3 linked regions of the Homo sapiens genome follow. The protein of the gene in region 1 interacts with the protein of each later gene in a pairwise test. Each region holds a gene or a part of one and is shown on either strand. Other genes may lie near its edges.

What was found. Proteins that work in one complex are often made in the same cells at the same time.
Region 2: the proteins of ACP2 (region 1) and KLK6 interact in binary tests that used the Homo sapiens proteins (3 or more experiments, as listed by UniProt).
Region 3: the proteins of ACP2 (region 1) and PAK1 interact in binary tests that used the Homo sapiens proteins (3 or more experiments, as listed by UniProt).

What each region holds. Positions count from the first base shown.
Region 1 is NC_000011.10:47,245,813-47,253,075, reverse strand, and holds the start of ACP2 (lysosomal acid phosphatase isoform 1 precursor), read left to right. Parts: upstream 1-4,272; 5' UTR 4,273-4,286; coding exon 4,287-4,400; exon of another isoform or gene 4,401-4,437; intron 4,438-4,447; exon of another isoform or gene 4,448-4,561; coding exon of another isoform or gene 4,562-4,591; intron 4,592-4,720; exon of another isoform or gene 4,721-4,776; intron 4,777-4,942; coding exon 4,943-5,038; intron 5,039-5,348; coding exon 5,349-5,435; intron 5,436-7,241; coding exon 7,242-7,263. Other genes in the region: NR1H3 (oxysterols receptor LXR-alpha), read right to left, coding at 4,212-4,272.
Region 2 is NC_000019.10:50,966,592-50,974,139, forward strand, and holds the start of KLK6 (kallikrein-6 isoform A preproprotein), read right to left. Parts: upstream 3,001-7,548; 5' UTR 2,899-3,000; intron 2,177-2,898; exon of another isoform or gene 2,001-2,176; 5' UTR 1,950-2,000; exon of another isoform or gene 1,926-1,949; intron 1,763-1,925; exon of another isoform or gene 1,682-1,762; intron 1,522-1,681; 5' UTR 1,514-1,521; coding exon 1,474-1,513; intron 906-1,473; exon of another isoform or gene 735-905; coding exon 578-734; intron 1-577. UniProt on the Homo sapiens protein: Serine protease which exhibits a preference for Arg over Lys in the substrate P1 position and for Ser or Pro in the P2 position.
Region 3 is NC_000011.10:77,471,095-77,478,060, reverse strand, and holds the start of PAK1 (serine/threonine-protein kinase PAK 1), read left to right. Parts: upstream 1-3,966; 5' UTR 3,967-4,509; exon of another isoform or gene 4,510-4,652; intron 4,653-6,966. UniProt on the Homo sapiens protein: Protein kinase involved in intracellular signaling pathways downstream of integrins and receptor-type kinases that plays an important role in cytoskeleton dynamics, in cell adhesion, migration, proliferation, apoptosis, mitosis, and in vesicle-mediated transport processes.

The sequences.
Region 1 (7,263 bases):
GAGGTAGGAGGACTGTTGGAGCCCAGGAGGTCGAGGCTGCAGTGAGCCATGATTGCACCACTGCACTCCAGCCTGGGTGACAGAGGGAGACTGTCTCAAAAAAAAAAAAAAAAAAAGAATACAAGTTTAGCTGATTCAAAAGTTTGAGCTCAAGCTCAAACAAACAAAAATCACAAATACACTCCATTATATAAAACTGCCGGCTGGGGCCGGGCGCAGTAGCTCATGCCTGTAATCCCAGCACTTTGGGAGGCCGAGTGGGTGGATCACTAGGTCAGGCTAACACGGCGAAACCCTGTCTCTACTAAAAATACAAAAAAAAAAAGCCAAAAAAATTAGCCAGGTGTGGTGGCAGGTGCCTGTAGTCCCAGCTACTCGAGAGGCTGAGGCAGGAGAATGGCGTGAACCTGGGAGGTGAAGCTTGCAGTGAGCCGAGACTGTGCCACTGCACTCCAGCCTGGGCGACAGTGGGAGACTCTGTCACAAAAACAAAACAAAACAAACAAAAAAAACAGCCGGGTGGGTGCGGTGGCTCACACCTGTAATCCCAGCACTTTGGGAGGCCAAAATGGGCAGATCACCTGAGGTCGGGAGTTCGAGACCAGCCTGACCAACATGGAGAAGCTGTCTCTACTAAAAATACAAAATTAGCCAGGCGTGGTGGCACATGCCTGTAATCCCAGCTACTCGGGAGGCTGAGGCAGGAGAATCGCTTGAACCCGGGAGGCGGAGGTTGCTGTGAGCCGAGATAACGCCATTGCACTCCAGCCTGGGCAACAAGAGCAAAACTCCATCTCAAAAACAACAACAACAACAACAACAACAACAAAACAAAACAAAAACTGCCTCTTCAGATGGAAAAAAAATGGCTAACATACCTGGATTTAGGTTTGCTTCTGCCAACACAGAATATGGTAGTGGTTCCTGTCCTCACCTTCAGAGATTCTGATTTATTTGATCTGGGATAGGCCCACATATCCATCTATCTACATGTGTTTTTTTTTTTTCTTTTTTTTTTTTGCACCTGTAGTTACGAACCAAAGTGTAAGAACCACAGAATCATCTGGCAGAAAATGCAAAAGCTGAAGGCAAAGGGGTGAAGAAACTAGGGCTCAGCTTCAGGCTCTACTATCTACTTGCGCTGTAATCCCCACCCTTCCTGGAATAGTTTCTCCCTATAAAAACTGAAATAGTATCTGCTTCATCAATCCCTCCTACGTGGGATACTTGCATGCACAAAGAATATAGACATATTTGAGCAAGTGGGAAGAAAAGCAAAAGCTGAATTTGAGAGATAGCTGAAATTTGGTGAGCCAAAGATTTACACTCTGAAAGTACAATGGTCTGGCTAGTTTGCAAGGAGTAAGAGGCCCATTAAAACAAAACACTCAACTGCCTCCCACTACCACTAATATGCAGCATTTTGCCAATTACCCAAGCCCTCTTTATTTTATTTTTTTTTTTGAGACAGAGTCTCGCTCTGTTGCCCAGGCTGGAGTGAAGTGGCACAATCTCGGCTCACGGCAGCCTCTGTATCCTGGGTTCAAGTGATTCTCCTGTCTCAGCCTCCCCGGTAGCTGGGATTACAGGCACACGCCACCACGACTGGCTAATTTTTGTATTTTTAGTAGAGATGGGGTTTCACCATGGTGGCCAGGCTGGTCTTGAACTGCTGACCTCAGGTGATCCACCCGCCTCGTCCTCCCAAAGTGCTGGGATTACAGGTGTGAGCCATGTCCGGCCTAGGTCCCGTTTAGTCCAACTAATTTGAAAAGGTTTCCTTTGACAGATACCTCTTTATTGAAAGGATTTCGGGATCACCAATTACAGTTTAGTAATGCAGTTTGAGTAGCCTGCAAGAAGCAGCCCATTATAGACTATTTAACTGAAAATCACAAAACCTGACTTTTTTTTTTTGAGACGGAGTCTTGCTCTGTCGCCCAGGCTGGGGTGCAGTGGCACGATCTCCGCTCACTGCAAGCTCCGCCTGCTGGGTTCACGACATTCTCCTGCCTCAGCCTCCTGAGTAGCTGGGACTACCGGCACCTGCCACCACACCCGGCTAACTTTTTGTATTTTTAGTAGAGATGGGGTTTCACCATGTTAGCCAGGATGGTCTTGATCTCCTGACCTCGTGATCCACCCGCCTCGGCCTCCCAAAGTGCCGGGATTACAGGCGTGAGCACGCACCCGGCCAAAACTTGACTTTTAATCCATTCTCAAACTGTGCCCATGCCCAAACTGTGAATTTGGGCAAGTCACTTCCTCTCTTTAGGTTTGTTTCCTAAGCTGTAAAGTAAGAGGACTAGGTTAAATCAGGTATTCAGAGATGCTGATTTATGAAACCTGTAATAAATGGTCTTTGTGAACCATTTGGGATTATATGCAAAATTCCATGTGTGTGTTTATATGTGTGAACATTTTTCTGGAGGAGAGGTGCAAAATTTTCATGTGATTCATAAAGGGGCTTGTGATTAAATAAGAAGGTTAAGAACTGTTTGGCTACCCAGGCTTTGGCTCTTACTCTATTTGCTTCTTGGCCTCCTCCATGACAACTCTGGAAGCAAAGTTTAAATCCTGAAGTATATATAAATAATTGAATCTGGAGTCCTAGGACAAAATAAAGACAGATAATCCTGATCTTTTTTTTTCTTTTCTTCTTTTTGAGACACAGTCTTGCTCTGTCATCTAGACTGGAGTGCAGTTGCACCATCATGGCTCACTGCAGCCTCAACCTCCTGGGCTGAAGGTGATCCTCCCACCTCAGCCTCCCGAGGAGCTAGGACCACAGGTGTGTGCCACCACACCCAGCTAATTTTTAAACTTTTTTTTGTAGAGAGGAGATCTTCCTAAGCTGCTCAGGCTGGTCTCCAACTCCTGGGCTCAAGCAATCTTCCCACCCTGGCCTCCCAAAGTGCTGGGATTAGAAACGTGAGCCACCACACCAAGCCTAATCAGGTTTTTGTTGTTGTTGTTTTGAGACAGTCTCACTCTGTCGCGCAGGCTGGAGTGCAGTGGCGTGATCTCAGCTCACTGCAACCTCCGCTTTCCGAGTTCAAGCGATTCTCCTGCCTCAGCCTCCAGAGTAGCTGGGATTACAGGAGCACGCCACTGCACCCGGCTAATTTTTTTTTTTTTGTATTTTTAGTAGAGACGGGGTTTCGCCACGTTGGCCAGGCTGGTCTCGAACTCCTGACCTCAGGTGATCTGCCTGCTTCGGCCTCTCAAAGTGCTGGTATTACAGGTGAGCCACGGCGCCCAGGCCAAGCCTGATCAGTTTTGTTTCCCAAAGATCTGAGGAGATTTGCTTCCAGTAGGCAGATCTGAATCAAAGCATCCCCAGGACCTATGATCTGACCTGCAACCGTCACAGGAGTCACAAAGTCCTGAGGCCAAACTGGCTGCACCTGAATCCTAATGGTCAATGCCAAGAGGGCCATTGATTCTGTGGAAACCCCACCTACTCCCACTTTATGATATGCGCCTGTCCCTTACCTCAAAATACCTCCCCACTGGTCTGAAATTCCTCCCCCAGGGATTCAGTGCTTTGGGTTTGTAAAGTCTGAACATCCTGTGCAACCCAACTCCTTTGGGAAGAGGCATGACATGACGTCTTGACTCTAATTAACTAAAACTTGGAAGTGGAGGGGAGGGAGGACAGGGAAAGGACTGGAAGGGAAAGTGAGAGGGCTACTGAAGCTTTGTGCAGGGCAGGAACGGTAGGCCAGACTGGGGCAACCTCAAGGACACACGGAGTCCAAAGGGTTGTTTACATACTGTGTCCTGCACCCCAAGCAAAACATCTCCTGGAGAACAGGGCCAGGGCTCAATCTCCCCACAAAGGCAGGGGCGTGGAGAGAAGCGACCTCTACTTTCCCATCCCTCGCCTCAATTCTGCACCCGATCTAGCTATGGGGTCAAGCCTGGAGGGGACGCTGGTTCTCCAGACATGGTCCCGCCCACTGCAAGTGCCACCTTGGTAAGGGATTTCTCCGAGCAGAGGCAAACGCGAATTTGTGGCCTTCTTAATCAAGATGAGGTCTTCGAGCCCTGTCTGCCGCGCCAGGTCGCGTTACCTTCTTATGCTCCTCCGCCACAGCCAGACCACGACCCTCCTGCACGCAATCCCACCGAGACTGCGCCTTTTCCCCGCACCCCAGCAGGTCCCTAAGTAAGATGGCGGCGAACGCACTTCCGGCGTGTGTCCTTACGGGTGCGTCCGGGCGGCTGCTTGCAGGTGCCACCCAGCGGGTTCCAGCTTGTTTGCTGCATAGATTACAACGGTGATGGCGGGCAAGCGGTCCGGCTGGAGCCGGGCGGCTCTCCTCCAGCTCCTTCTCGGCGTGAACCTGGTGGTGATGCCGCCCACCCGGGCCCGGAGTCTGCGCTTCGTTACCTTGGTAATGAGAGATGGGCTCACCAAAGACTTCCCTGAAGCTAAAAGGGCAAAGGCCAGCTGGTGGAGGTCGAGGATCTCGGGAAGGAACAGCTGGTTTAGGAGGGGACGACTGGCCTGGGTAGTTGGGAGGCTGGATTCAGGATTGACCTGGAGCCCTGGCTTATGGGAGTCAGGATGACCGAATACGTCGGGGTGAGTCTGCCTTGAGACAGGGAAGTGGTTGAATGGTTAAGACTCATCCCTAAAGAAGCCTTTGGTTATCTTTTTTCCCCAGTTGTCCCCACCACATACGTTGCTTTCACTTCTCTTTTCCCTTCCTACCTGTACCTTGGCTTTGCCTATGGTCTCCAGTAGCATTGCTTAGCTAAGTTAGAATCTCTGGAATCTGGAAGAAGTGACTGACTCCTAGCTGGGGTCTTTTGCAGCCAGTAGGCTTCCCAGAGGGAATGAGACTTCCTTCCCTAACATGGGGCAAAAGGTAGGCTCTGGGTCCCTATCAAGGGGATGCTTCTGACCTATAGGCAAACCATTTTATTCTCTCAGCTGTACCGCCATGGAGACCGTTCACCAGTGAAGACATATCCCAAGGACCCCTATCAGGAAGAAGAATGGCCCCAGGGGTTTGGTCAGTTAACCAAGGTGGGTCAGAAGCCAGCCTTTCCTCAGGATGAGCTGCAGAATGAGCGACGTCTAGAGCAGTCTACAAAACTTGGGGTCCTACTAAACTGCCTTTTCCCATATGGGTGCTGACTTTGACCAGATTTCATAACCTTAATCTCTGTGCCCATGATATTGCTGTGCATGACTGGCCACTTAATGAAAGACTTCTGGGATCAGATTAATTGACTCCAGCAAAGCGTGAACCTGGAAAGCAACAGGGCCTAAACCCCATGGGGCTTGAAGCCACCCCTTCCCTCTAGACCCTCTTAACCCTTGGGTTTGCCCACAGGAGGGGATGCTACAGCACTGGGAACTGGGCCAGGCCCTGCGGCAGCGCTATCACGGCTTCCTAAACACCTCTTATCACCGGCAAGAGGTAAGGTTGGGAGCTCCAGAGGCAAGGGGAACAAGGTATGCTGCCCTCATCTTTTGCCCTCAGGGAGCCTAAGGCTGAGGCTGGGCACTTTGGCCTCCTTCTTGTATTTTTGGTCACAACTACAGGAAAAGACATCTGAGAGCTGTCTGGAACAAAGCCCTAGGAGCTGAGTTGCCCCTGCTTGGCTGGGATGAGGCAAATTTGATTAAGCATCCAAATTCGGACTTAAGGGCGGGCCTGGCAAAGTGGTTTCTGACTGTGAAATCACAGGCTTTCCATCCAAGACATTGAGTACCTATTAAAGGCCAAGGACTGTGCTAGCACTTTGCATTCAGTTGTGCACCATACAGATATGATCTCTGTCTTCATGGAGCTTAGAATGTTGTGGGGGTATCTAATGATAAACCAGACAGGGCCAAGATGAAAGACAGCGGGGAAGACATGCGTAGAGAGGGCTTGTCTTTTCTTGATCAAGATGAGGTTTTTGAGCCCTGTCTGCTGCGCCAGGTCGTGCTATATTCCTAGGGCACATCAGGGAGGACTGGTGAGTGTGCCTGCTCCTTGAGTCTTCGCCCCACCCCAGGAATGGGGGAAGCTGTTCCTCTGATTACCACTGTCAGCCTCAGCCGTATCAAGAATCCATAGACATTGTTATTGTTCTCTTAAGGCCCAGCTCTGTCCTGAGCTTGTCCTTCCCCAGTTTCCTCCTCCCTTTTCATGAGCCACTATCTCTGAATAAGCTCTTCAAAAAAAATTTTTTTTTTTGAGACAGAGTCTTGCTGTGTTGCTCAGGCTGGAGTGCAGTGACATGGTCTTGGCTCACTGCAACCTCCACCTCCTAGGTTCAAGCGATTCTCCTGTCTCAGCCTCCCAAGTAGCTGGGATTACAGGTGTGTGCCACCATGCCTGGCTAATTTTTGTATTTTTAGTAGAGACAGGATTTCATCATGTTGGCCAGGCTGGTCTTGAACTCCTGACCTCAGCTGATCCGCCTGCCTCGGCCTCCTAAAGTGCTGGGATTACAGGCATGAGCCACCGTGCCCGGCCCAAAATATATACATATATTTTAAAGGGGTCTCACTCTGTCACCCAAACTGTAGCACATGCCTCAGTCATAGCTCACTGCAGCCTCAAACTCCTGGGCTCAAGTGATCCTCCTGCCTCAGCATCCCAAGTAGCTGGGACTACAAGTGCCCGCCACACTTGGGTAATTAAAAAATTTTTTTTTGTAGAGACAGGGTCTCACTATGTTGCCCAGGCTGGTCTCGAGCTCCTGGCCTCAAGCGATCCTCCTGCATTGGCCTCCCAAAGTGCTAGGATTATAGGTGTGAGCCACCAGGCCCAGCCCTTTATCTTATTTTTTTCTCCCTGGTCTCTAAGGGTCGTCACTGGAGCCAGTTTCTGCCCCAAGGACCCTGATCTAGACAGGGAGAGAGGTGTTGTTATGAAACCAGACAGACCAGAGAGCCTTACTGATTGACTCAGCACTTTTGACTGGAAGGGGCATTTCAACTAAGGCCATTCCCACAAGAGTTCTTCACAGAGTGGTGACAACCCCCAGTGGAGTGTTTGGGGGATGGGGAAGGCCAGAGGCCAGAGGAGGGTGAGGGCCAGATGTATGGTAGGTTTAGTTTGCTGGGTGACCATCAGGAACAGGTTCTCCTCTGGGGCTCCACTTTGGGGTGACCAAAACTTCCCACCACACACACACACATACATACAAGGCTCCACTTCAGGGTGACCAAAACTTCCCCAACACACACACACACACACACACACACACGACTTGTGTTGCTATCGCTGCAGGTTTATGTGCGAAGCACAGACT
Region 2 (7,548 bases), on another chromosome or scaffold:
GGAGTTCGAGACCAGCCTGGCCAACATGGTGAAACCCCGTCTCTACCAAACATACAAAAATTAGCCAGGCAAGGTGGTGCACACCTGTAATCTCAGCTACTTGGGGTGCTGAGGCAGGAGAATCGCTGGAACCTGGGAGGCAGAGGTTGCAGTGAGCTGAGATCATGCCACTACACTCCAGCCTGGGTGACAGAGCGAGACTGTGTCTCAAAAAACAAACAAACAACAAAAACAAAACTGCCCAGTGGCTTCCTACTGTGCTCAGAATTAAATCCAAATGCCCATCACGCCCTGCAGGTCCCCAAATGATCCAATTCCCCCATTAGAAAGTAAGTTCAGGAAAACAGCAATTTTGCTTGTTTTTTTTTGTTTTCTTTTTTTTATTTTCTTTTCCACTGCTATGCCCGCAGGGCCTGGCACACATTAAGTACTCAATTAAGCAACAGCCGAATGCACCTGGCTATCAGATGGCCTCGTGCTGGGATGGGGGGGATGCCTATGTCACCTCCTGCCTGACATCTATAAGACACCCTCAGGGTTCAGTCGCATCTGCTGTTCATTTACAGTGTAGACTCACGGTTTTTTGCAGTGGGCAGCTGTGAGGACCCACAGTGGATGGATAAGGACCCCACCACAGAGCAAGTGGCCCGAGGTGTAGAGGGCAGCTTGGTAGGGGTGAGATGTCTTGTCGCAGGGTCCGCCATGCACCAACTTATTCTGCTCCTCTGCCCAGGCTGAGGGAGAGAAGATCTGAGTCAGAGAGGAGTTCTGGAGAAACCAAGCGCATCCCCCTCAACATGAACTCCAGTCAAGATTGGTCAGGTGCAGTGGCTTATGCCTGTAATCCCAGCTGAGGCAGGAGGATCGCTTGAGCCCAGGAGTTTGAGACCAGCCTCGGTAACACAGTGAGACCTCATCTCCACACACACACACACACACACACACACACACACACACACAAATTAGCAGGGTATGGTGGCATACGCCTGTAGTCCCAGCTACTTGGGAGGCTGAGGTGGGAGGGTCACTTGAGACCCAAGAGTTCAAGTCTGCAGTGAACTATGGATCATGCCACTACACTCCAGCCTGGGTGACAGAGTGAGACCCTGTCTCAAAAAAAAAAAGCTTCTCTGTATTTCCACTCCCAAACTTACCCCATTCCCATTACAAACCCAACTGTATCCCCTATTCCCGGGCTCTCTCCAACTTTCCAACCTACCTCCTACCTCTTCTATGTTTAGATCCCCATCCCTAAAGCCAACCCCACCCCAAACCCTCATATCTTCAAACCCACCTCCCACCACCCTCCCTATCTGTATTCCCCACCCTTAGCCTAATCCCCAACGTCTTCCTCATTTCAAAGCTCCCCCACCCCAACCCTGTGCATATCCCCATCCCCAATACCAGCCTCTTCTCCATCAACAAGCCCAACCCTGTCTGCAAGCCTCCCCCATCCAAATGCCCTTTCCCCACCTGCAGCAATCAGACTCAGCACCACCATCAGCTTCTTCATGGCCGCTCCTGAGAGGGGAAGCCACATGGTCCATTAGTCACTGCCTCGACCCTCCCCCCATCCCTCTGTCTGCTCCCTCTGCATCCTCTCCTTCCTTCCTGGCCTGCTATGGTCTCCTGCCTTGACCTCTGTCCTTCCCATCTAGCCTCCTGATTTATTCTTCCTCAGCCCACATCTTCCATCAGAGGATCCCACGAAAACAGTGCCAAAGAGAATTCAGAACTACGTCCACTGGTCCAGTAACCCATGGTGAGATTCTGATTAGATCTTTCTACTTTCTTGGGCACTGATTTGCCTTCCTGTCGACAGGAGAGGGTTACCCTAGGGGGCCCTAGCGTTCTTCCTCTGTATGGGAGTTTTCCTCGGAGCCTGGCTCTGTGCGCAATGGCCACCCACCCCGCCCACCCGGCAGGTTCTGTGATGTCTGTGATCTCACCTGCTGCAGGCCTCCGGGCTCCGGGGATTCTTGAGTCGGGGGAAGGAACAGCTTTGAGACGAGGAGGCAGAAAGAGTTAGAAATGCGGGGAGCCGTGAGGAGAGAAGACACTCAGATGCAGTGGCAGAGCCAAGCGGAGGACGCAGGGGCCGCAGAGCCCAGGGCTGCAGGGACTGCCAGACACACACCCCCAGCTCCCAGGCCTCCCTGGAAGAGGCTGGTTCTGTCCCCAGATGCTTCTGGAACGTCCTTTTAACCCCTGTCTCTCAGGTCCCTGAGCCAGGAGACTGGCTACACCCTTTTCCTCCTTACCCAGGCCTCCCACACACATTCCTCCCGCCCCCACGCTCTGCTCTTGGTGACCCCTGACCAGGCCTCCAGGGAAGGGAGCACTGGTCCCTGAGTGCAGTGAGGGCCTGGACTCCTGGGTCTGAGGGAGGAGGGGCTTGGGGGCCTGGACTCCTGAGTCTGAGGGAGGAGGGGCTGGGGGCCTGGACCCTTGCGTCTGAGGGAGGAGGGGCTTGGGGCCTGGACTCCTGGGTCTGAGGGAGGAGGTGAGAACTTGGACTCCTGGGTCTGAGGGAGGAGGGGCTGGGGGCCTGGACTCCTGAGTCTGAGGGAGGAGGTGGGAACTTGGACTCCTGGGTCTGAGGGAGGAGGGGCTAGGACCTAAACTCCTGGGTCTGAGGGAGGAGGGGCTGGGGCCTGAATCTGAGGCAGAGGAAGTTCTAGTCGGCTCAGTCCTTAGACCTCCGGGTTTTGGAGAAAGAAAGTGTCTGAAGACAAATTCCGGCCTCTGGGGCAAGCAGATGGTGCCCCAGGCCTCCCTGCACCCCCAGCACTCTCTGTGCCACCCAGGGACCTGCAGGCCCTCACTCCGGGCTCTAGAGCCCTCCGGCACTGGGAAGCAGCCTGCCCAGGTTCAGTGCGGTTGGGGTGACTCACACACCTGCCCGTAGGTCCCTCTGTGTGCTGCCTGCCGACCTCTGTGTCCCCAGGAGAGAGCGAGCCAGCCAGCCGGGGAGACAGCTACAGCGTGTGTCACCACACTGGCCCCCGCCCCTGCCCCGGGCTGGGGAGCAGGCCCAGGCGCGATGGGGAAAGGGCCCAGGAACAATCGGGCTTTGTCCGCCCCCAGCACCCCAGTGCCATGCTCCCAGCAGCTCCGGCCTCAACCTCTCTTCCGGCGGGCAGGCGGGAGGGCGGTTACATCAATGGCTTCCTTTTGTCCCTGTCTGACAGTCCTCCTTTGCAGTCTCTGACTGCCCACCTGGCCCTGACTGGAGATTTCGGCACTCCACATCCTCCTGGTCCTTCTCCTCCAAGTCTGCCCACCCCTGAGGTCTCTTGCTCCATCTGTCTCCCTGGCCATGGAGGGGAGGGAGCTTCCATCTCTCTCTCTCTCCCATCTCAGTCTCTGTATTTGTGTCTCTCTCCCTCTTTTTTTCTCTCTCTCCCTTCCTCTCTCCCTTCCTCTCTCCCTTCCTCCCTTCCTTCCTTCCTTCTTTCTTTCCTTCCTTCTTTTCTTTCTTTCTTTCTTTTTTTTTGACGGAGTCTTGCTCTGTCACTCAGGCTGGAGTGCAGTGGTGTGATCTCAGTTCACTGCAACCTCCGCCTCCTGAGTTCAAGCAGTTCTCCTGCCTCAGCTTCCCAAGTAGCTGGGATTACAGGCACCCACCACCACGCCCGGCTAAATGTTTTTTGTATTTTTAGTAGGGAAGAGGTTTCACCATGTTGGCCAGGCTGGTCTCAAACTCCTGACCTCAGGTGATCCACCCACCTTGGCCTCCCAAAGTGCTGGATTACAGGTGTGAGCCACTGTGCCCGGCCTCTCTCCCTTTCTTTCCCCTTGATTCTCTGACTCTCCGTGCTTATCTTCTCCTGGGTCTCTTCTTAGATTTCCCCGGGGGTAGCACTGTGTGTGCCCAGAAGGGAGTCAGTTTCCCCAGGAAGTAGCGGGGATGATTCCCGAGCGATGAGGAAGCTAGCAGGATGGAAGAGGACTTGAGGACTTATTGATGAGATGCGGACACACAGCGAGAGGCATGGAGTTAAGCAGAAATCGGAGAGCACTTGGGAACGACGTGGGGCTGTGATAAGATGGTGGTGCTGGGCAGTAGCAGAGGGATCTGGGAAGATTTAGGGAGGTGTCTTTGAACTTGGGCCTAGAAAGCTGAGCCAGGCGTAGGTCAGGAGGAAAGGCCGTGAAAATGCCTGGCCTGGGTGCACATGGGAAACCACAGGCAGTGGTTGGGGTGGTTGGTATGGGCTGGAGGGTGAGGGTGTGTGCGTGGCAGAGTGGAGAGAAATGAGGAGGGGGAAGTCACTGCGTAATAAGGACAATGATAGGAATGAAGTCTGGCTCAGCACCTGCTTGGGCTGGGCACTACAGGTAACTTAAAAAAAAAAGTTCTTTTTTCTTTTGAGACAAGGTCTTGTTCTGTCGCCTAGGCTGGAGTGCAGTGGCACGATCCTTGCTCGTGGCAGCCTCAACCCTCCTGGGCTCAAGCGACCCTCCCGCCTCAGTCTTCCCAGGAGCTGGGACCATAGGCATGAGCCACTGTTCCCAGCCAACCCTTTTCTTTGTCTTGCATTGAATCTAATTGTCATCTTGCATTGTGCACCCCCCATCACTCCAGGGATGAAGACTACTTCGGTATTCAGTATACTCTCCGGGTGCTCCCTCTCACATTTGGTCCCCACTGACCTCAGCACCTTCTTCTCAGGACGTGCTATCTTCACAGACAGCAAGTCTGATGTTGCACAACCCAGTGACCAGGCCCTATCCCTCTGCCTCCTCTCTCTGGGGGGTCCCTTCCTCTCTGTACCCACACCCTCAACCCCAACTCAGAGCTGCACCTCTCCCACCTGGACCAGGATCCCTCTGTTCTCTGTATCCCTTGCCCCAGAGAGACCTTCCTGTGCCTTGTGCTGACCTTGCCCCTCCTCTCACAGACGTGCCCTGGGTCCCCATCTCCCTTGGGACCAAGTCCCAGCCCCCCAGCCTGGCATTTGAGGACCTTTAGCATCCAGGGAAGTCCTGGCCAATGAAATGTGATGCCAAGCACGCATGCACATTTACATTTTCCAATCACCATACTTTTTTTTTTAAGTCAGAAGATTTTTTAAGTGTCCTTACCACAAAAAATAAGGGTGTAAAATAATGCATATGTTAAATAGCTTGGTTTAGCCATTCCACAACATATACATACATATATCAAACATGATGTTATACACCAGAAATATATACAATTTTTACTTGTCAATTAAAAAATAAATTTAAGGCCAGGCATGGTGGCTCATGTCTGTAATCCCAGCACTTTGAGAGGCCAAGGTGGGTAGATAGCTTGAGTCCGGAAGTTCATGACCAGCCTGGGCAACATAGTGAGAAACCATCTCTGCAAAAAGTAAAAAAATTAGCCAGATGTGGTGGTGCACACTTGTAGTCCCAGCTACTCCGGAGGCTGAGGCGGGAGAATTGCTGAGCCTGGGAGGTCGAGCCTGCAGTGAGCTGTGACTATACCACTGCACCCCAGCCTGACATGGCTGGGCAAGGTGGCTCATGCCTGTAATCCAAGCACTTTGGGAGGCAGAGGTGGGAAGATCACTTGAGCCTAGGAGTTCGAGACCAGCCTGGACAATATAGTGAGACCCTATCTCTAAAAAAAAAAACAAAAAAAAGAAAAGAAAAAAATTACCTAGGTGTGGTGGCACACATCTGTGGTCCCAGCTATGCAGAAGGCTGAGGTGGGATAGTTGCTTGAGCCTGGAGGCCCAGGTTGCAGTAAGCCATAATCACGCCACTGCACTTCAGTGTGACAGAGCCAGACCCTGTCAAAAATTTTTTTAAAAGGAGTCCTGAGTGGTGAGTGGCCCTCACACTGCATGACACAGCTATGTCTACGTCTCCGTGTGGCTCCAGCTTTCTAGAACACATCAAGCTTCCCTGACCCATGCCATGCCCTCTGGCCTCTGGCCCTTCACTGAATGCTATTCCCTCTTCTTCTTGAGATGGAGTCTCGCTCTGTCGCCCAGGCTGGAGTGATGTGGCGCGATCTCTCTTCGCCTGCTGGGTTCAAGCAATTCTCCAGCCTCAGCCTCCCGAGTAGCTGGGATTACAGGCACACACCACCATGCCTATATTTTTAGTAGAGATGGGGTTTCACCATGTTGGCCAGGCTGGTCATGAACTCCTGACCTCAGGTGATCTGCCTGCCTCGGTCTCCCAAAGTGCTGGGATTACAGGCGTGAGCCACCGTGCCTGGCCTATTCTCTCTTCTTAGCATGTTTTCCCCACCTTTTCCTGGCAATAACCTGTCCTTCAAGTCTTTACTTGGACATTACCTCCTCCAGGAAACCTTCCCTGAACACCACCCAGCTGCCACCTGCTGTAGTTGGATTACTCATTCTCTCACGTAGGTTCCCACAGCAGGTGTCTCCCTCAACCCAACCTGGACGGGGGGCCACCTGGATTGACATTCGTCATCTCTTCCACTGGACCGTGAGCTCCTTGAGGGCAGGTACGGGACTGACTCATCCCTGTGTCCCAAGCAACCACACAGGACCTTGCCCAGAAGAAGCCTTAGGCAAGACTGACCAAATGACTAAATGACTTTATCACACCCACTCCCATTTTACAGATAAGAAAACTGAGGCTCAGAACGGGAAGTTCATTGCTCATCATCAAACATCCAGGAAATGGTGGAGCCTGAATGGGAACTCAGCTTCCAACATGGCGTGGATGTGGCCCATCCCTTGGTGGCCTGGCTGGGTCTATCTTATGACAGTACGAGGTGAGTGAACTTGGGAGGAATTGTTGAGAGCTGGGTGGGGAAAGAAGGGAGGTGTTAGGCTGTGGGGAGTGGAGGGACTTTGAAGAGAAAGAAATTTCTAACTCTACCTCTTCTCTGGTGACCTTCATGGTTTGCCATCTCTGCATACTTTGAATGCTTATTTACTGGATAGTTTGCTCCAGATTGTCTTGCTCTGCAAAACTCTTCACTAAATAAATTCTTCTGTCTCGGTGCAGTGGTTCACACCTGTAATCCCAGCACTTTGGAGGGCTGAGGTGGGAGGATTACTTGAGCTCAGGAATTAGAGACCAGCCTGGACAACATAGTGAGACCCCGTCTCTACTAAAAAAAAAAAAAAAAATCAGCCCAGGCATGGTCCCAGCTACTCGAAAGGCTGAGGCAAAAGGATTGTTTGAGCCCAGGAGACTGAGGCTGCAGTGAGCTATGATCATGCCACCAAACTCTAGCCTGGATGATAGAGCAAGACCCTATGTGAAAAAAAGAAAAAAAAAATTATAAGGAAACTTCATGAGACTGTAAGCAGAAAAAAGTGCCAGAAGTCATAAACAATAAAAACCAATGCCTGGGCCAGGCGCGGTGGCTCATGCCTGTAATCTCAGCACTTTGGGAGGTCAAGGCGGGCAGATTGCCTGAGGTCAGGAGTTTGAGGACAGCCTGGCCAACGTGGTGAAACTTGGTCTCTACTGAAAATACAAAAATTAGCCGGGCATGGTGGCAGGCACCTGTAATACCAGCTACTCAGGAGGCTGAGGCAGGAGAATCACTTGAACCTGGGAGGCAGAGGT
Region 3 (6,966 bases), about 30 Mb from region 1:
CACCCTGGAATAGCTTACGTAGCATCCTATACATGGTTGGTTCCTGCCTTGCACCTTTAGCTGCTGGGATAGGCTCTGGCCACTCTCAACCCTGAACTGGAAAAATTGGGTAAATAATGATCTTACTTGTTTATTTTTGAGACACGGTTTCACGCTGTTTCCTGGGCTGGAGTGCAGTGGCATGATCACGGCTCACTGCAGCCTCGACCTCCTAGGCTTAAGTGATCTTCTGCCTTGGTCTCCCAAAATGCTGGGATTACAGGCATGAATCACTGTGCCCAGCCTCTTGTTTTTTGTTTTGTTTTTGAAACAAGGTCTCACTCTGTCGCCCAGACTGAAGTGCAAAGGTGTGCGGTCATGGCTCACTGTGGCCTTGACCTCCGGGGCTTAAGTGATCCTCCCACCTTAGCCTCCTGGGTAGCTGGGACTATGGGACTATAGGGGTGTGCTGACATGCCTGGCTAATTTTTTGTATTTGGGTTTTTTTTTTTTTGTAGAGATGGTGTTTTGTCATGTTATCTTGCCTGGTCTCAAACTACTGGGCTCAAGCGATCTGCCCACCTTGGCCTCCCAAAGTGCTGGGATTACAGGCATGAGCCAAGGCACCTGGTCTGGCCTCTTTTTATTAATCTTTCTTAAATGTATGTATAGGCCACATTGATTTCAATGTTTGATATTAGAGGTGTTTTGGTCTTTATTTAGAAGTTTGATGATGTCTTGTGACCAGAAATATGCCACAGGAACTCAACTCTTATTTATATCAATTAGCCAGCCTATGGTAAAATTGGTTTTGTTATACATTGTTTTGCCTAAAGTTGCAGAACCCATTGATGGCGTTAAGTGAGGACTTACTGTATACACTTATCCTACTTATTTATTCCACTTCTAGCCCATCTCTGATTTCAGCTGCAGCTTTGGTGGACAGTTTCACTTCTCATCCTGCTAGCAATTCCTAGCATAGAGCAGTCACCTTTGATTAGAGATTGTATTAGTTTCTTATGGATGCTGTAACAAATTATCAAACACAAAGTGGGCTTAAAACAATACACATTTATTTTTATTTTTTTATTTTATTTTTTGAGATGGAGTTTCACTCTTGTCTCTAGGCTTAAGTGCAATGGCGCAATCTCGGCTCACAGCATCTTTACCTCCTGGATTCAACCGATTCTCCTGCCTCAGCTCCCGAGTAGCTGGGATTACAAGCATGTGCCACCACGCCCAGCTAATTTTGTATTTTTAGTAGAGATGGGGTTTCACCATGTTGGCCAGGCTGCTCTTGAACTCCTGACCTCAGGTGATACACCCGCCTCGGCCTCCCAAAGTGCTGGGATTACAGATGTGAGCCACTGTGCCTGGCCAACAATACACATTTATTATTTCACAGTTCTGTAGTTCAGAAGTCCTAAATGGATGTCAGTGGGCTAAAATTAAGGTATCATCAGGATACCATCTCTTCCTTTCCAGAGGCTCCAAGGGAGGATCCATTTTCTTGCCTTTTCCATTTTCCAGTCTGCTCCCAAAAGCTGGAGAGTCCCTTTCCCCAAATCCTCAATTTACTCACATCTGCAGAGTCCTTTTGTCATGGAAGGTAACATATTCATAGTTCCCAGGGATTGGAATGTGAACATTCCATTGGATGAGCCATTATTCTGCCTAGTGCAGAGATCACGAAAAGACAATCCAGATTAGAGTCAATTTACTGGGTTAGGATCCTGGGTTAAGTTACTTAACCCCTCTGTGCCTCAGTTCCCGCATCAATAAGATGGGTGAGGATAACAACAGTATCTACCGTAGAGGGTAGAGGTTTAAAGACAGTGTTTGTAAAGTGCTCAGAACAGTACCTGGCACATAGAAAGAACAATAGGAACATTTATTAAATACATTTTTTTTGAGACAGAGTTTTGCTCTTGTCACCCAGGCTGGAGTGTGGTGGTGCAATCACAGCTTCCTACAACCACCGCCTCCTGGGTTTAAGCAATTCTCCTGCCTCAGCCTCCTGAGTAGCTGGGATTACAGGTGCCTGCCACTACGCCCGGCTAATTTTTGTATTTTAGTAGAGATGGGGTTTCGCCATATTGGCCAGGCTGGTCTCAAACTTCTGACCTCAGGTGATCTGGCTGCCTTGGCCTCCCAAGTGCTGGGATTACAGGCGTGAGCCACCGCGCCTGGCCTTATTAAATATATTTTAACAACATATTGATACTTAGGTATATGTCAAGCACTGTTTTAGGTGCTGAGGATATGGAAAGGAATATGACTTGGAACTCAAGAAATTAGATACACAAATGCAGTTACTTCCATAAAAGGCATAGAAATACTATAGAATTACAGTTTTGTTAAGGCTTAGGGAAACTTTAGAAATATTAGTCAAATGAATATGAATATGAATATGAATGACATTTGAGCTCAGCTTTGTACAATGAATAGGTGTTGGCCAGTCAGCTAAGTAGGGAAGAGCTTGAAGACATGAAGAAATGTGTATTCAAATAACGTTAATATTTCAGTGTGCTTGGAGCAAAAAATAAATGATGTGAGACAAAGCTAGAAAGGCTAGTGTAAGCAGTCAGGTAATAAAGTGCCAAGTTCAGGAGTTTGAACTTTATCCTGAAAGCAATAAAATCCTTTCGGTGTTTAAACGGGAGGACATCATCAGATTTGTGCTTTTATAAGGCTACTCAGGTAACTAGTGAGAAAAATAGATTGAGTTTGAAGAGACTAAAGGTTGCTCCAGTTGTTCAGGTGGTGGTAGTAGAAGACGACACAGGCAAGGACTTGAAAAATATTTAGGAGAAGCTACAAGACTTGGTGTCCAACTTGATATGGATGTTGAGAGAGGAAGAACGGGGAGCTATTAGTATGTCTAGGTTCCTGGCTTAGGGGATTGTTGAATGGGTGGCCCATTCATTGAGAACGGAAAGGAACGTAAGAAGCAATTTTGGGGGGGAAATAATAATAATAGCCAACATTCTAAAGGGCTTGTTACTATTACCATGGTAAAACTGAGGCTTAGGAAGACCTAGTTAAGGTACTACTTATTATTACAGAAAAATTACGGCTTAGAAATGTCAAGGTCCTATCACTAATATTTGAATAGCTAGGATTTCAAGCAAGGCAACCTGATTCCGGACTCTTAGCCTTTCTAATGCTGTCTCAGTTTCGCACATGTTGAATCTGAGGTACGAAGAGTATGCAGGTAATGCTGCTCGGGAGGTATTGGGAAATACACAATCTGAGCTCAGGAGAAAGAAAGCTTTGGGTCGAAAGTACCCTCCACGGTAGGGGAAAAAACGTGAAAGGAAGCCCATTCTTTTCGTATGTCAGTTCACATTAGTTCAAACATCTCCGTTATAATTTCTTTGTCTTCCTCCCACCCCTGCCCCCTCTCCCACAGAAAGAAAACATAATACATGTCTGGCTGTGAGATCACACGACATCGGATAGTTTTCAAATTCAGCCCTTGACAACGAGCTCATAGATGCGGTGGTGCTTTGTTAACCTGAAAAGGACCCTCAGCGCCGGAAGTTAGCCGTCTTTCTCCATCCTGACTACTACAGTAGCCCTCCCAGAAATCGTCCCAAAATTGTCTGATAGAAAGGCTGCACGGAAACAACCCGCCACGGACAGCGGACCGAGAACAGTGACGCGACGCGATGACGTCACGCAGCAAGCGGGTGATTCCCCAGCCTCTGGCGTCACGCGCCGATGACGTAATCCCAGGCGTTCGCCCTCATGCGGGCCAGGGTTTGGCCTCGCTCCCACGGGTCGGTCAGGCCCTCCCCGCCCCCTCTCACCTGCGGGAGGCGGGGCGGGCACGGCTCCACCGGAGCCGCAGCCGCCGCCGCCGCGCCGGGGAGGGGGAGTGGGGGAGGGGGAGGGGGAGAAGGGGAAAGGGCAGAGGGGAGGAGGAGGCGGGAGGAGGAGGAGTAGGGGAGCCAGTGAACTAGGCGGTCAGGCCTGCCGGGCGGCGTACAATAGCGCGGCTGTGGGCGGGGGAGGCTGCCCTCCCGCGGCTGCAGCCGGAGCCGAAGGTGGTGGCTGCACAGTAGACGCCCCCTCACGGCTTCCCCCACACGCTCCCGCCCCCTCGCTCGCCCATCGCGCTTCCCTCACAGGCTCTGCAGTCCTCCCCCACAGACGCCTTCCCCCTTGGACTCTCATTCCCTTTTCCACGGAGCCCCGCGCTTTCGTGAGCCCCCTCGAGGAACCTGGTCTCCGCATCCAGTTACCACCTCCTGCCTCAGAGGCCATCTGAGCCCTTCGCACCTCGCCCCTCAGTCCCCCCTTCCCCCCCCGCCCGCGTCGCCTCGCTCCCTCCCGCCCCCCCATCATCCCTTCCCTCGCAGTTCCCCTGTCCTGAGGGGAGCCCCGCCACGGGCAGCGCGGCGGCGGCGGCAGGAGGGAGAAAGTGAAGCGGTAGCTCGCGCACACTCGCGCCCTCACTCCCGGCTAGGCGGCACCCACCGCCGGGAGGAGGAGGAGGAGCCGAGAGGAGCTGAGCGAGCGCGGAAGGTGAGAGCGGGCCTACCGCCCAGTACCCCTCGCGTCCCGGGCTGCCAGGGCTGGGGCGCGGGGGTGGGGACGGGTGGAGTGGGGGTCTGGGCCCATTTATTTCGCGTTGCGGGGCCGGGCGCCTGGGCGGGAGGAGGCGCCAGGTAAGGTGAGGCGGGCGGCGCCCCGCGAGGCCCGCTCCCGTCGGGCCAACAAAGGCCCCCTGTGCGCGTACCGGCGGGGTCGCGGGTCTCAGACGCCGGGCGATTCGAGAGACCTGGGAGAGGGAAGGGGCGGGGCGGGGCCAGGCCAGGCTGGAGCCGGGAGGCCACACGAGTACCGGTCCGGGACCGAGTCCGTCCCGAACTTCGCAGTCCTGCGGCGCTCACCCTGTCCCGCTACGAGGAGGCACAGCAAAGCGGCGCCCAGTTCCTTCTGCATGGAATAAATGACCCCTTCCAGGCTTGGACAGTCACCTTTAGGGTTCTACTCCCTGAAAAATAAGGGCTGGTAGGACTTGACTTACGCAGCCCCTCCCCCACCCCGGAATATTCTGTAACTTGGGAAGTGAAAAACAACCGGGGAAGGAGATTTATAGTTATTTTATGTTCATTATTACGTTTGAAAAGACATGATTGTTGTAGCCTTCGCTATCCTATTTCAGCAGTACACATTACTGGGAGTGTTTTGGAAGAATACTTGAGAAGTAGTGGGTGTGGCGTTGTGAGCAACGTCCTTGGTTTTTAAACCCCTTGGATAATTGTTCTACTGTTACAAAAACTGTGAACAGTGAAGGGAAGGGTTAGTTCCGTGGTTACTAATAAAAATTCAGATTCATTAGTCTTGACTTTAAGAATTGTTCCTGAGAACAATCTTTAATTTTGCCTCCTACATTTTTGGGTTCTCTTTCAACTCTGTCAGGAGAAAGTAGGAATTATCAGTACAGATACCTCATCTCTCTTACCCTGTGGCTTCATCTACTTCTTGTGTGACCTTGAGCAGGTCACTTCCAGCCTTAAAAGCTCCAGAAGTTTGGTTTTATGCCCCAAAACGGGCAAGTAGCAAGCACCGGACTCAGCTTTCAAGAGTCCACTGAAGAATTCCCACACTGTGAAGTCTTTGCTGGCCTCCATCCTGTCTCTCCTCTTACAGACAGAGCTGATTTCTTCCCATTGGCCCGGTGGGATTTCTACCACAGCACTTACAACATTTTGGTTCCTATTTGGAAAATTCTAAGTCAGGTGCATATAAAAACTCCCCACCTCAACTAGAAACTATGCCTTTCAAAAAGGGTTTTGGGAACATTGACCCTGAAAACTTCCCATACTTTCCCTGAAGCTTATCCATACTCTTTAACTACATGAGCTCATGGGTCTACCTTGGTAAATTTGCTTATTCAGTCAATTCGTTTATCCAACATTACTGGAGTTCGGAGAGCTACTATGTTTCAGGCCTCTTGCTAAGGCTATGGGGATTCAGTCTATTAAGATATTCCCTGTCTTCAAAGAGCTCAAAGTCTAATGGGTGAGGTAGACAAGTAAACAATGAAGGTCTGCCCTAATCTCTGGGGGACTCCAGTTGTACAGGTAGTAGTGTGCAATAATTGAGGCTGCTGGACCTGTTTTACAAGTCTTCTCTTGGCCAAAGTGAGTCCTGCAGGGAAGGTGACCTGCCTCATCCATAACAGGGCATTTGGTAAAAAGCTTGTTCAGTTCAATTCAATATACATTTACTAAGCACATGTTTTGAGTCCCTGTGCTAGGTTTGAAGGAAGCAGTGCCTCAAAGGAAGGTACTGTGCATCCAGAAAGATTTCTGTAAAACAAAACCTTACCACATCAGCGCCCCCTACCCCTGACTCTTCATATTCTGAAGATAAATTTCAGAGTAACATGGAATAAAAAGCTCTCAGGGATCAGACCACTGCCTGCCTTTGCAGTCTCACTTTCTGTGGCTCCCCTGCCACTCTCATCTTCACTCTTGCATGTTCTGTTTTCTTCCTGGAATGCTTCCCTTCCACCCCTTACCTGCCTGTGGAGATGACCTTGTTGGGCCTCTGGGATGCAGTCCCTTAGTCTCTCCTTTTCCTGCATAGAATGAGTTGCTCTTCCATCCTCTGGCTCATGTACATACCACTTTTATGGCCTTCTGTAGCGCTCTGTTGCAATTACTTGAGTTTGTGCCTGTCTTTTTTTGGTAGCCTGTGAATTTCTTTTCTTTAATAAGCCCTTTAAATGATTCTGATGCTTGCTAAAGTTTGAGAACCACTGGGTTAAAAGATCTGCTCTTAATAAAAACCAGCACCCTGCCAGCTCCTGCTGTCCCGTTTTTCTTCCGTAGCACTTAACTGCGTGACATCCCATCCCATCCCATCCCATCCCTCTCTTGCCAATAGAATGAAAGCTTCCTGAGACTGGGAAGTTTTGTCAGTTTGGTCATTGCTTTAATCCTAGTGCCTAGAATAGTGACTGCATATAGC